Linked DNA regions of Homo sapiens. The protein of the gene in region 3 purifies or fractionates together with the protein of the main gene of each other region. This does not show direct contact. Each region holds a gene or a part of one and is shown on either strand. Other genes may lie near its edges. The genes, in order: CIAPIN1, NARF and RGS20.

Evidence for each region.
Region 1: the proteins of RGS20 (region 3) and CIAPIN1 purify together in Homo sapiens (affinity purification with mass spectrometry; 2 studies listed by BioGRID and IntAct, with this or other methods). This does not show direct contact.
Region 2: the proteins of RGS20 (region 3) and NARF purify together in Homo sapiens (affinity purification with mass spectrometry; 2 studies listed by BioGRID and IntAct, with this or other methods). This does not show direct contact.

What each region holds. Positions count from the first base shown.
Region 1 is NC_000016.10:57,445,630-57,449,229, forward strand, and holds the start of CIAPIN1 (anamorsin), read right to left. Parts: upstream 1,757-3,600; 5' UTR 1,713-1,756; intron 1-1,712. Other genes in the region: COQ9 (ubiquinone biosynthesis protein COQ9, mitochondrial precursor), read left to right, coding at 1,877-1,949. UniProt on the Homo sapiens protein: Component of the cytosolic iron-sulfur (Fe-S) protein assembly (CIA) machinery required for the maturation of extramitochondrial Fe-S proteins.
Region 2 is NC_000017.11:82,468,657-82,472,482, reverse strand, and holds part of NARF (nuclear prelamin A recognition factor), read right to left. Parts: intron 3,720-3,826; coding exon 3,587-3,719; intron 1-3,586.
Region 3 is NC_000008.11:53,883,845-53,887,670, reverse strand, and holds part of RGS20 (regulator of G-protein signaling 20), read right to left. Parts: intron 1-3,826. UniProt on the Homo sapiens protein: Inhibits signal transduction by increasing the GTPase activity of G protein alpha subunits thereby driving them into their inactive GDP-bound form.

The DNA.
Region 1 (3,600 bases), on a different chromosome or scaffold from region 3:
ATCCAAGTCAGCCATTGCCCCTCTCTGGGCCTCAGTTTCCCTGCCAGCTTTAGCAGAATGGTAGGAAGGCACAATTACAACCTGCAAATGAGACCTAAGAAACCTACTATGTGCCTGTCCCTACACGGGAGACAGACAAGAAGACACTTGTTCCCTGCCCTCAAGAGAACGCTCTGTCTAGACACTTAGACTAAGACCTTAGAGGTTTTTTTTTTTTTTTTTTTTTTTTTTTTTTTGGCAGAGTCTTGCTCTGTTGCCCAGGCTGGAGTGCAATGGCACAATCTTGGCTCACTGCAACCTCCGACTCCGGGGTTCAAGCGATTCTCCCGCCTCAGCCTCCCAAATAGCTGGGATTACAGGCACCCACCACCACACCCAGCTAATTTTTGTATTCTTTGTAGAGATGCGGTTTCGCCATGTTGCCCAGGCTGGTCTCGAACTCCTGAGCTCAAGTGATCCACACGCCGCAGCCTCCCAAAGTGCTGGGATTACAGGCATGAGCCTGGCCCAGAATTTTTTTTAAAAAGTGAGAATCAACAATGAAACAGGAACGTCTCCAGGCATTTGGCGTGTGTCAGGAATTAGGGTTTCAGAAAGGATACCCAAATGTTAGTTTCCACAGGAAAGGCTCATTCAAAGATGGATGGATAGAACTCAGAAACAAATCCTTATGGAGAGGAGTGTTTTACCTAAAACCAGAAATATGGATCTAAAATTTTAACCTTTGGGGTAAGTTTTGGCTTAGGAGGTCTTCCCCGCACCCGTGCAGGGGGGAGCCGGATATTCTGAAAAGACTAGATTTGACAAGGGGTGTGCAAAGCACAACTTTAACAGACACAATGATGGGGTCTGACTGCAAACACAAAATCGACAGAATCACATGCTCTTGTCGTCAGTTACTCTTAGCCCAAAAACCGTTTACTTCTTCCTACTAAGCCTTCTCTGATGACACCCCCGTGAAGTGCTCTGTTAGTGGCTAGACCGTGACCTCCTTGAGCCATCCAGAGCTTGGCACTCAGTAATGTCAGAATGAAGGGCACCAGCCTTTCCCGAACTTGCAGATCCTACAAATCACCCGAGGGAGTGGTTAAAATGAGATTCCTGGACCACACCCAGACCCACTCAATCAATCCTTCTGGACAAAGGCCTAGCTGTCTGTTCTAGTAACAAGCATCCTTCCGATCTGGATACTTAATTATATCAACTCAACACGCTGGGGGTTCGGACAAGTTGCAGGTTCGAAATTACAATCGTGAGCTCAGGTACCCCCCGACTCCAAGGCTTTCGTGCTTTGCTGCCAGGAACCCCCAGGGACCAAAACGTCACGGGGACTGAGGCCCAAGGTCACAACGATTGGCTACTGGTAGGACCGGGTCTCAGAACCAGGTCTCCCCGATCCCAAGCTCGGAGCCGTTTCTCCTCAGCGTGGTGTCCCCGGGGCCTCAGAGTAGGGCCGGCTGCGCAAGGGACGAGGCAGCCGGGGAACGGCAGAAATTCCCAGTCAGGACCCCAGGGAGGTTAGGGCCGGCCCTGGCCCCTCACACCGACTTCTCAGGAATAAACCAGCCGGGGCTTTCAGCGGGGCGGCCGTGGCTGCGTTCCCATCGAGGAACGGGGTGGGAAGAGAAAATGAGAGGATGTGGGAACGAGGGTGGGCCGGGAGGGGACAGTTGAGGGAGCTCTGGCGCTCAGCTGGCCCCCACCACTCTCACCTGCCGCCTGGGCTCGCTCCCGGCTTCTCTCCAGCCGTCGACTCCACGCCTTGCGCCTCTCGCGAGAGGAGGAGGCTCCACGGAGCGACGACTTCCGCCCTCCTTAGGGCCGTGGTCCCGTAGCTACCGGTCGCGTCGCCGTGGGCGACGTGCCCGCTTCCAAAATGGCGGCGGCGGCGGTATCTGGTGCGCTTGGCCGGGCGGGCTGGAGGCTCCTGCAGCTGCGATGCCTGCCCGGTGAGGGGGCTGCCAAGCCGGGGAGAGGCGGGGAGCGCGGAGGGGGCGCGAGGCCGGCTTCAGCTGGGTTCGACGGTGGGGGGAAGAGGCCGTTGGGGCGGCCCACGAGCAAGGTGAGGTGAAGGGCATCGGCGCGGGCTCGGGCGAGCCGCCTGGCTAGCTTCGGCCCTGCTCCGCTGTCTGTGAGGGGCAGATGCAGCGGGGCAGGGCCTGTCACCCCCATTTCATGGAGTTGGCAGAGCCTCAGAGAGGGCTCGGGGTACGAAAGTCACGCAGCCTGAGCCTGTTGGTTACAGAACTGGCAGTCGCAGACCCATTCTCAAGTCCATTGCCAAGTCCACTGGAAGGACAGGTGGACACGGCCACAGAGAGCCTAGTCCATTGTTTCCCGAAAGCCAGCCGTTTCCTCACCACTTCACGAATTCTGTGATACTCTCTTACCACCTTTGCCACTATGTACTCAGTATTTTTATTTTTAAATAGGAGTTCTTAAAGAGGAAACTTTATATCATTGTCATAAATGGAAAACTAATATCGCCTTCCTTAATTAGAACGTATGCATTAACACTTTAGCATACATACATAACTGATGAAACGTTCACCTGTATTTCACCTAAAATCTTCTCATGACCCTCAGTGGTACTACAGTCATACTTTGCATCTGCTCCTTCCTTTTCAAAGTTTTGCGGATATTTGTGCCGTATCTTTCAGTACATGTATTAAAATATTGATATTTTGGCACATACTATTCTGTTTCTTTTTTTTCTTTTTTTTTTTTTTCTGAGACAGGGTCTGGCTCCTCAGCCTCCCAAGGAGCTGGGACTACAAGTGCGTGCCACCCTACTTGGCTTAATTTTGTTGTTGAGACAGAGTCTCACTCTGTCACCCAGGCTGGAGTGCAGTGGTACAATCTCGGCTCACTGCAGCCTCTACCTCCTGGGTTCAAGTGATTCTCCTGCCTCAGCCTTCCTAGTAGCTGGGGTTGTGCCACCATGCCCAGCTAATTTTTTATTTTTAGTAGACGGGGTTTCACCATGTTGGCCAGGCTAGTCCAAAACTCCTGACCTCAAGTTATCTGCCTGCCTCAGCCTCCCAAAGTGTTGGGATTACAGGTATGAGCCACCGCCTAGCCCCCTTTTGTTGTATTTATACAAAATTCCAAACTAAAGATGTGTAGTAAAAGTAATGTCTATGACCCCGCAAATCCACCAAGAGAAATGAAGGTATGTGTCTACAAAAAAGTTAGTACAAGTATATTCATAGCAATTTTATTCATAGTAGCCAAACACAGAAACAGTCCAGTTGTCTAGCAACAGAATAGTATTTTTTTTATGGAATACTATTCTGCAATAAAAACTAAAAATCAGTCAAAGAGAAAGCTGGACACTAAAGTGATAAGGACCATTTTTAATCAGTAATAACTATTGCAATAGGGAAAAGAGTCTAGCATGAACGGAGCCCAACCTTGAGTTTAGAGCATGCAGAAGTCACTGGGTGTTTCAAAGAAAAAATGAGGGAGGAGGGAGGAAGGCAGGTGGGGACTCAGTAGAGTCAGGATAGTGAATAATTATAAATAAGATTGGTCTGCTAGCTGGCAGTTAACAAAGTTAGGATTCTGTTTTCCCACAGGGAGACAAGCCCTATCCTTCTT
Region 2 (3,826 bases), on a different chromosome or scaffold from region 3:
AGACGGAGTCTCGTTCTGTCACCCAGGCTAGAGTGCAGTGGCATAATCTCGGCTCACTGCAACCTCCGCCTCCCAGGTTCAAGTGATCCTCCCACCTCAGTCTCCCGAGTAACTGGGATTACAGGTGCCCGCCATCATGCCTGGCCAATTTTTGTATTTTTTAGTAGAGATGAGGTTTCACCATGTTGGCCAGGCTGGTCTTGAATTCCTAGCCTCAAGTGATCTACCCACCTTGGCCTCCCAGAGTGCTGGAATTACAGGCGTGAACCACTGCATCCAGCCAATACTTCTTCATTCTTACTCATTTTTGCTTTCTCACGTTTAAGAGACAAACTTAAAGCATAGATTCTACAGGCATCCCTCCTAAGATAATAAAATCAGTCTTGGTTCTTATCTATTCCTAACGGCCTAAGTTCAAGACCGTGTGCTTTACCTTTTATTTTGTAAACAATGAGCGTGTATGATTTTTCACAATGAAATATGTATGTTCTCTCTCATGCTTCTTCCCTCTCTACATTTTAAAACACCTTACTCCATATATAAATTAATGAAATATTACAACGTACCCACAGCATTCCCTTCCAATTCACAGGCAAATTAAATTTCAGTCTGTGATGGTTCTTGATGTGTTTAAAAGTAGAACGTACAGTAAAAGTATAGAATGGCTGGGCATACTTTTTTTTTTTTTTTTGAGACGGAGTCTCACTCTTTCGCGCAAGCTGGACTGCAGTGGCGCTATCCCGGCTCACTGCAAGCTCCGCCTCTTGGGTTCATGCCATTCTCCTGCCTCAGCCTCCCGAGTAGCTGGGACTACAGGCGCCCACCACCACGCCCGGCTAATTTTTTGTATTTTTAGTAGAGATGGGGTTTCACCGTGTTAGCCAGGATGGTCTCGATCTCCTGACCTCGTGATCCGCCCGCCTCGGCCTCCCAAAGTGCTGGGATTACAGGCGTGAGCCACCGCGCCCGGCAAGGGCATACTTTTATAATGGCTTAAATTTTTATACTGAATTTTTTTTTTTTTTTTTGAGACAGTGTCTCGCCCTGTTGCCCAGGCTGGAGTGCAGTGGCGTGATCTCGGCTCACTGCAAGCTCCGCCTCCCAGGTTCACACCATTCTCCTGCTTCGGCCTCCCAAGTAGCTGGGACTACAGGCGCCCGTCACCACGCCCGGCTACTTTTTTGAATTTTTAGTAGAGACAGAGTTTCACTGCGTTAGCCAGGATGGTCTCAATCTCCTGACCTCGTGATCCGCCCACCTCGGCCTCCCAAAGTGCTGGGATTACAGGCGTGAGCCAACATGCCCAGCCTTTTTTTTTTTTCAGACAGTCATGCTCTGTCACCCAGGCTGGAGTGTGGTGACGCAATCTCAACTCACCGCAAACCTCTGCTTCCTGGGTCTGAGCGATTCTTGTGCCTCAGCCTCCCGAGTAGCTGGGATTACAGGTGTCTGCCACCATGCCAGGCTAATTTTTGTATTTTTAGTGGAGATGGGGTTTTGCCATGTTGGGCCAGGCTGGTCTCAAACTCCTGACCTCAGGTGATCTGCCCCCTCGGCCTCCCAAAGTGCTGGGATTACAGACATGAGCCACCACACCCGGCCTGATTTTTTTAATTTTAAATTTTTTGTTTCTCCCCCTCCCCAGGTAACAAAGCTGAGAGAAAATGCAACTAGCTATAATAAATATTAGGCTGGGCACGGTGGCTCACCCCTGGAATCCCAGTACTTTGGGAGTCCAAGGCGGTTAGATCATGAGGTCAGGAGATCGAGACCATCCTGGCTAACATGGTGAAACCCCATCTTTACTAAAAATACAAAAAATTAGCCGGGCGTGGTGGCGGGCGCCTGTAGTCCCAGCCACTCGGGAGGCTGAGGCAGGAGAATGGTGTGAACCCGGGAGGTGGAGCTTGCAGTGAGCCGAGATGGCGCCACTGCACCCCAGCCTGGGTGACAGATCAAGACTCCGTCTCAAGAACAACAAAAAAAGAAATATTATAAATTTTAAAATATTACATTAAGAAATCCATTTTACTGTGGATACATTTTATTGATATATAACATTCCGTTACATCATTTTAAGAATCTAGCCCCAAATAAGGGCTTTCATCGTGAGAATATATAGCATTTGACAACTCTGATCTTCAGTGTAACTAACCTAACCCGAGGCTTTATGATGACAAGCATGAAGGAGCGACCTAACGTGTGGGCACCTGTCGCTGTAGCTGGGTTTCAGCTGCAGCACATTATGTGCTAGATGACCAGGTCTTGTTAGAGCCCAGGCGCCTAGGGCACAGGGAGCATCAGGACCCCCAGGCTGCTGCTTAGACTTCAAGCCTGTCCTGATGATCCTTATTCCAAATATCATTTTATTTCACCAGTAATCCCCAATATATCTACATTTATGTACTTATTTAGCAGAGATAGGATCTTGTTATGTTGTCGAGGCTGGTCTCGAGCTCCTGGCCTCAAGTAATCTTCTGGTCTTGGCCTTCCAAAGTGCTGGGATTACAGGCATGAGCCACCAAACCTGACCAATATTTATAATTTTTAAAAGCCGCTGTAGAATAATAAAAACTCTTGGCCAGGCACGGTGGCACATGCCTGTAATCCCAGCACTTTGGGAGGCCAAGGCGGGTGGATCACGAGGTCAAGAGATTAAGACCATCCTGGCCAACATGGTGAAACATCATCTCTACTAAAAATACAAAAATTAGCCGGGAGTGGTGGCGCGCACCTGTAGTCCCAGCTACTTGGGAGGCTGAGGCAGGAGAATCTCTTGAACCCGGGAGGCGGAGGTTGCAGTGAGCCAAGATCGCATCATTGCACTCCAGCCTGGGGCACCAAGAGCGAGACTCCAGCTCAAAAAACAAACAAACAAACAAACAAACAACAAAAAAAACCTCTTATTTGGCAACTCGCTCATTTTCCCTTTCTGAACTTGCACACTGACCATCATGCTATGAGGATGCTCAAGGCTGTAAAAGCCCCTCTATAAGCAAATGGAGGGAGGCAGTTCCCCTTTGACCAAAGCAGAAGACGCAGAAGCATCATCCATCAACATTTCAGGTAGTACTATTCCAGCGTTGACATCCGAGTTCTTTTATTATATTCTTAAATTTCTACCTTTCATTCCTCAAGTAAAGAACACAAGCCCATTCCCTTTCTGCTCTGCTCTTCAGAGAGCTTCTTGGGAAACCAGATACTAATCATTTCAGAAGTGACTGTTTATCAAATGCACACCCTCTGGGGGTAAGGGGTGACTTGGAGGTTGCTGGGCCAGTGTGGGAATCTCCCAGTGTCCTGTCCGTGTTGTCAGAAGGTGGTCACTGTTTGGTCCCAGAGGGGTCAGCTCCCACTGTGTAACAAAACACCTGTCTGTGCACAGCAAAGGAGAAAAGTGACACTCGTCTACCATCGATCAGAGGCTGGGTTTCATGACACACGGGACATGGTCTTTTTACGTTCCAAGAGACTCTTTTGGAAGTTGCTTATCTACCCTGCGTCCTTGAAAAACGAACTTTAGAGATTAAAAAGGGCGCTTATAAACTCAAGTTATACATTCCCAATTTATCAAAAGATGACTCACCAAGACTTTTGAGGAAACCACAGAGTCTTCTGGATGCATCAGTTACACTGAGGTTGAATTTAGCAGCAAAATAAGGCAAAGATTGAGGACACACAGACACTACCAGCACTTTGTGCTTTGAGGTATCACATTTCTAGAAGGAGAAATAGAGAATGTTAGGTATCTGCTGATTACACAAGGAGTAAAAGTTACACACCTTAATGAGAAATTCAGAACAACGTTAATAGATGGTCTATGCAA
Region 3 (3,826 bases):
AATCTGAGTTCTCTGGATAATGACTTCCTGTCATTAATTATCAACATGACTTTTATACAAATTAAGAAATCTATGGGCGTGTGCTCTTGGGCTGCTCTCTGGCCAGCACCCTCTCCTGTGTCACCTCTCTTGTGTCCACAGTCTAACCCATCTCTTCATTTCCCTCAACCTCAGGTGGAGCCTCCACCAAAATGCAGATTTTTCCAAAAATCCTTACAGGGACGATCATCACCCTAGAGGTTGAACCCTTGGATACAACAGAAAAATGTAAAGGCCAATATCCAGGATAAGGAACGAATTCCTCCTGATCAGCAAAGACAAGTGACTGGAAGCTGGCAAGTAACTGGAAGATGGACATAACTTTCTCTGACTACAACATTCAAAAGGAATTTACTCTTTTTATGTTGTGTTGAGACTTCATGGTAGTGCTAAAACTAGGAAGAAATCTTACACGACTCCCAAGAATAAGCATAAGAGAAAGAAGGTGAAGTGGGTGTCCTGAAATACTATAAGGTGGATGAAAATGGCAGAATTAGTGGCCTTCGCTGGGAGTGCCCTTCAGATGAATGCGGTGCTGGAGTTTTTATGGCCAGCCACTCTGACAGGCATTATTGTGGCTAATGTTGTCTGATTTATTGCTTCAACAAACCAGAAGACAAGTAATTGTGTATTAGTTAATAAAAGACATGAAAAGAAAGAAAGAAAGAAATCTACGAGTCCCTTAAATCACATTATCACCCCACCCTGAGACATAAAAGTCCATTATAAGGGTGAGGTAAGGAGTAGGTTACATAATTCTTTCCAATGTTGCAAAAATTCAACAGCTGTATAAGTGTTGATTCTAGCCATTCAGCCCTAAAAGGGTTAAAGTCCCCAGTGTCCTTAGTCTAAGAGCAGCAGTACAAACTTGTGCTCCAGCCTTGAACAACCACAATTCAGTCAGCTTCAGAGGGGCACAAATGTAGACAAACCAGATAGCAGGGCGTTCTCCACTCCTTCACTGTTGGACGGAGGTGCACATCGTACAACCCAGCACCTCAGGAAGCCAAGCTATCAGATAACTTTGCATGAGATGCCTTTGCCTAAAACCCAAATGCTCACATGAAAAGGATTTTACACTTTAGAATAAAATAAATGCGTAACTAGAAATTGAGCTTTCAAAATCAAAAAGGTCAACTGGCTTTAATAACTATTGAAATAACTCATGTAAAATATCACTGCTGGGCAACAGAGCATATTACTCATATTTCACAAGTGATTCCCTATGCAAATAGCTAGACTCTAATCAGCTGGATTAGAATCAAGGTAATCTACTCCATGAATTTATAATCATGTAATATTACTCTGAGCACTCAGCCACATCAAACTTGATTGTGAATGGCCTCTCCAAGAGCCCATTCAATTGTACTATGAACTGACTCACTCCAAGCAGCGTCGCCTTAACTCTTGAGCTAGCTGCGCAAAGTAACATTCAGGGACCATCTCAGATGGTGCCGTGTAGTCAGTGACTCCCACTTATTGTACTAAATGCTAAGCTCTGACTCAGAGTGAGCCCTATTAGTTGCTGACTGACACTGTACTTGTTTGAATAGAAGCTCACATTGTGAGTCACCTGGTGGTGCACTGAAAACCAATCTGAAATATTCCCAATTGGACAGTGATTCACATTATAATCATATTGGGACCTAACTTGACACATGTGATTTCAAAACTAAGTTCTGCCAAACTGGCTTGGGAGCATGCTAGAAAGTCACTCCCTTCTTAATGCCCTGTCCTTCTGTCTAAGAACATGTAGTAAGTATCCCAAGATGCAAAGTATTCAAGAGTAGGGTATTCATGCAAGAGGTTTCTTGGAGTCAAAAAAAAAAAAAAAAAAAAAAGAGTAAGATACTCAGTATCCAGTTCACACACTGGAAAAAACCACGGTTTCCTTTTTCAAGGATGCAGGCATAATTCCTAGAAGTACCTCCCCTGGAAGACACACCATCCCTATAAATAACTTTGTAAGACCAGATGTTCACTAGAAAGTCTCTGCCGTATAATTCATTTTTTTTTTTGAGACGGAGTCTCCCTCTGTCGCCCAGACTGGAGTGCAGTGGCGCAATCTCGGGTCACTGCAAGCCCCGCCTCCCAGGTTCATGCCATTCTCCTGCTTCAGCCTCCCGAGTAGCTGGTACTACAGACGCCCGCTAATACGCCCAGCTAATTTTTTGTATTTTTTAGTAGAGACGGGGTTTCACCGCATTAGCCAGGATGGTCTCGATGTCCTGACCTCGTGATCCACCCGCCTCGGCCTCCCAAAGTGCTGGGATTACAGGCGTGAGCCACCGCGCCCGGCCTCTGCTGTATAATTCTTAAACTGTGGATGTGAGGGCTGGACCTTTAAGCCACTATCTGCATCTGTCCATGGAAGGTGAATGTGGTTAGATGCCCACATGCGGAAATAAAAGAACAGCAGGATTTCAGGAATTAATACTTAATGCCTGGAATGAAACCAGTTACAGGCTACTGCATTAAAATAAGAAAGCTTTTCTCTTTTACTCTCGCTAGTCCATAAAATCTAGAATAATAAAATCTCCTTCTGTGTAATTTTGAAGGCGTTTTCTAAAAGGCTTTCTTATAGGAAAGACCTTCAAAGCCAGCTGGAAGGATATTTTAAGAATTCAAGAAAAGCTCAAAAATGATTTCTAAAACTGCTACAGGAGATTAATAGAATATGCAATCAAATGTATACCCAAGTGGGGCCTAAAATGCTAATGCTGGCTCTGACAATAGCTTGATCTGTGACCTTACCTTACCTGAGGCGAGTCATGTGGTCATGTCTTATAATGTGAGGGACCAAGATAAAGCTGTGGGACAACAGTAGCCACGACATGACTGCCTGGTCCTTCTTGGTGCTAGAGATAGCACATGCTCGTACACTTTTTCCTTATTTATACTTTCTATCTGTTAACAGTTCATTAATCCGTAGTAAACAGGAAATCAGCAGTGTGGTGTGTAAGAGCCCTGGGGAATGAGTCAGAAGTCTTCATTCTATTTTGGCCCCTAATTAGCTGGAGATCTCTGGCCCAGACCCTTAACCTCTCTGAATGTTTCCTCATCTGTAAAACGAAGGAGGTAGAATAAGTAACCTGATTTTCATCATTCTGTATTTTTGATATAAGGGGTGTTTCAGCTAAAACGTTTACAGTGATCTCAGACAAGTTAGCACTTCAAGCTCCTAAGGTACATTTTCAGATTCTCTTAAACTGGCTGTTCATCAGCCCTGGCAACACAGCGAGATCCTGTCTCTATAAAAAATTAAAAAATTAGCCAGGTGCGGTGGCAGGCACCTTAAGTCTCAGCTACTCCTGAGGCTGAGGTGGGAGGATCCTTTGAATCTGGGAGTTCAAGGGTGCAGTGGGCCTCAGTCGTGCCACTGCACTCCAGCCTGGGTGAGAGAGTGAGACCCAGCATCAAAAAAAAAAAAAAAAAAAAAAGACTGTTTTTCTAATTTGGATGATGGACATGTGTTTCATTATGCATACTCTTTATAGTATACAAAAATATGCATTCTGTTACTGATCTTATTTATAGTTTGAAGTCTAGCCAATTTAGCATCAATATAATAATAGTAATAACAGCTTTTGCTTGGTATGTGCCATCCCGTTATAAGAGCTCTATGTTATTAATTTACTGAATGCTGTCAGCTAGCACATTAGGTAGATACTCTTTTTTTTTTTTTGAGACGGAGTTTTGCTCTTGTTGCCCAGGCTGGAGTGCAGTGGCTCCATCTCGGCTCACTGCAACCTCTGCCTCCTGAGTTCAAGCAATTCTCCTGCCTCAG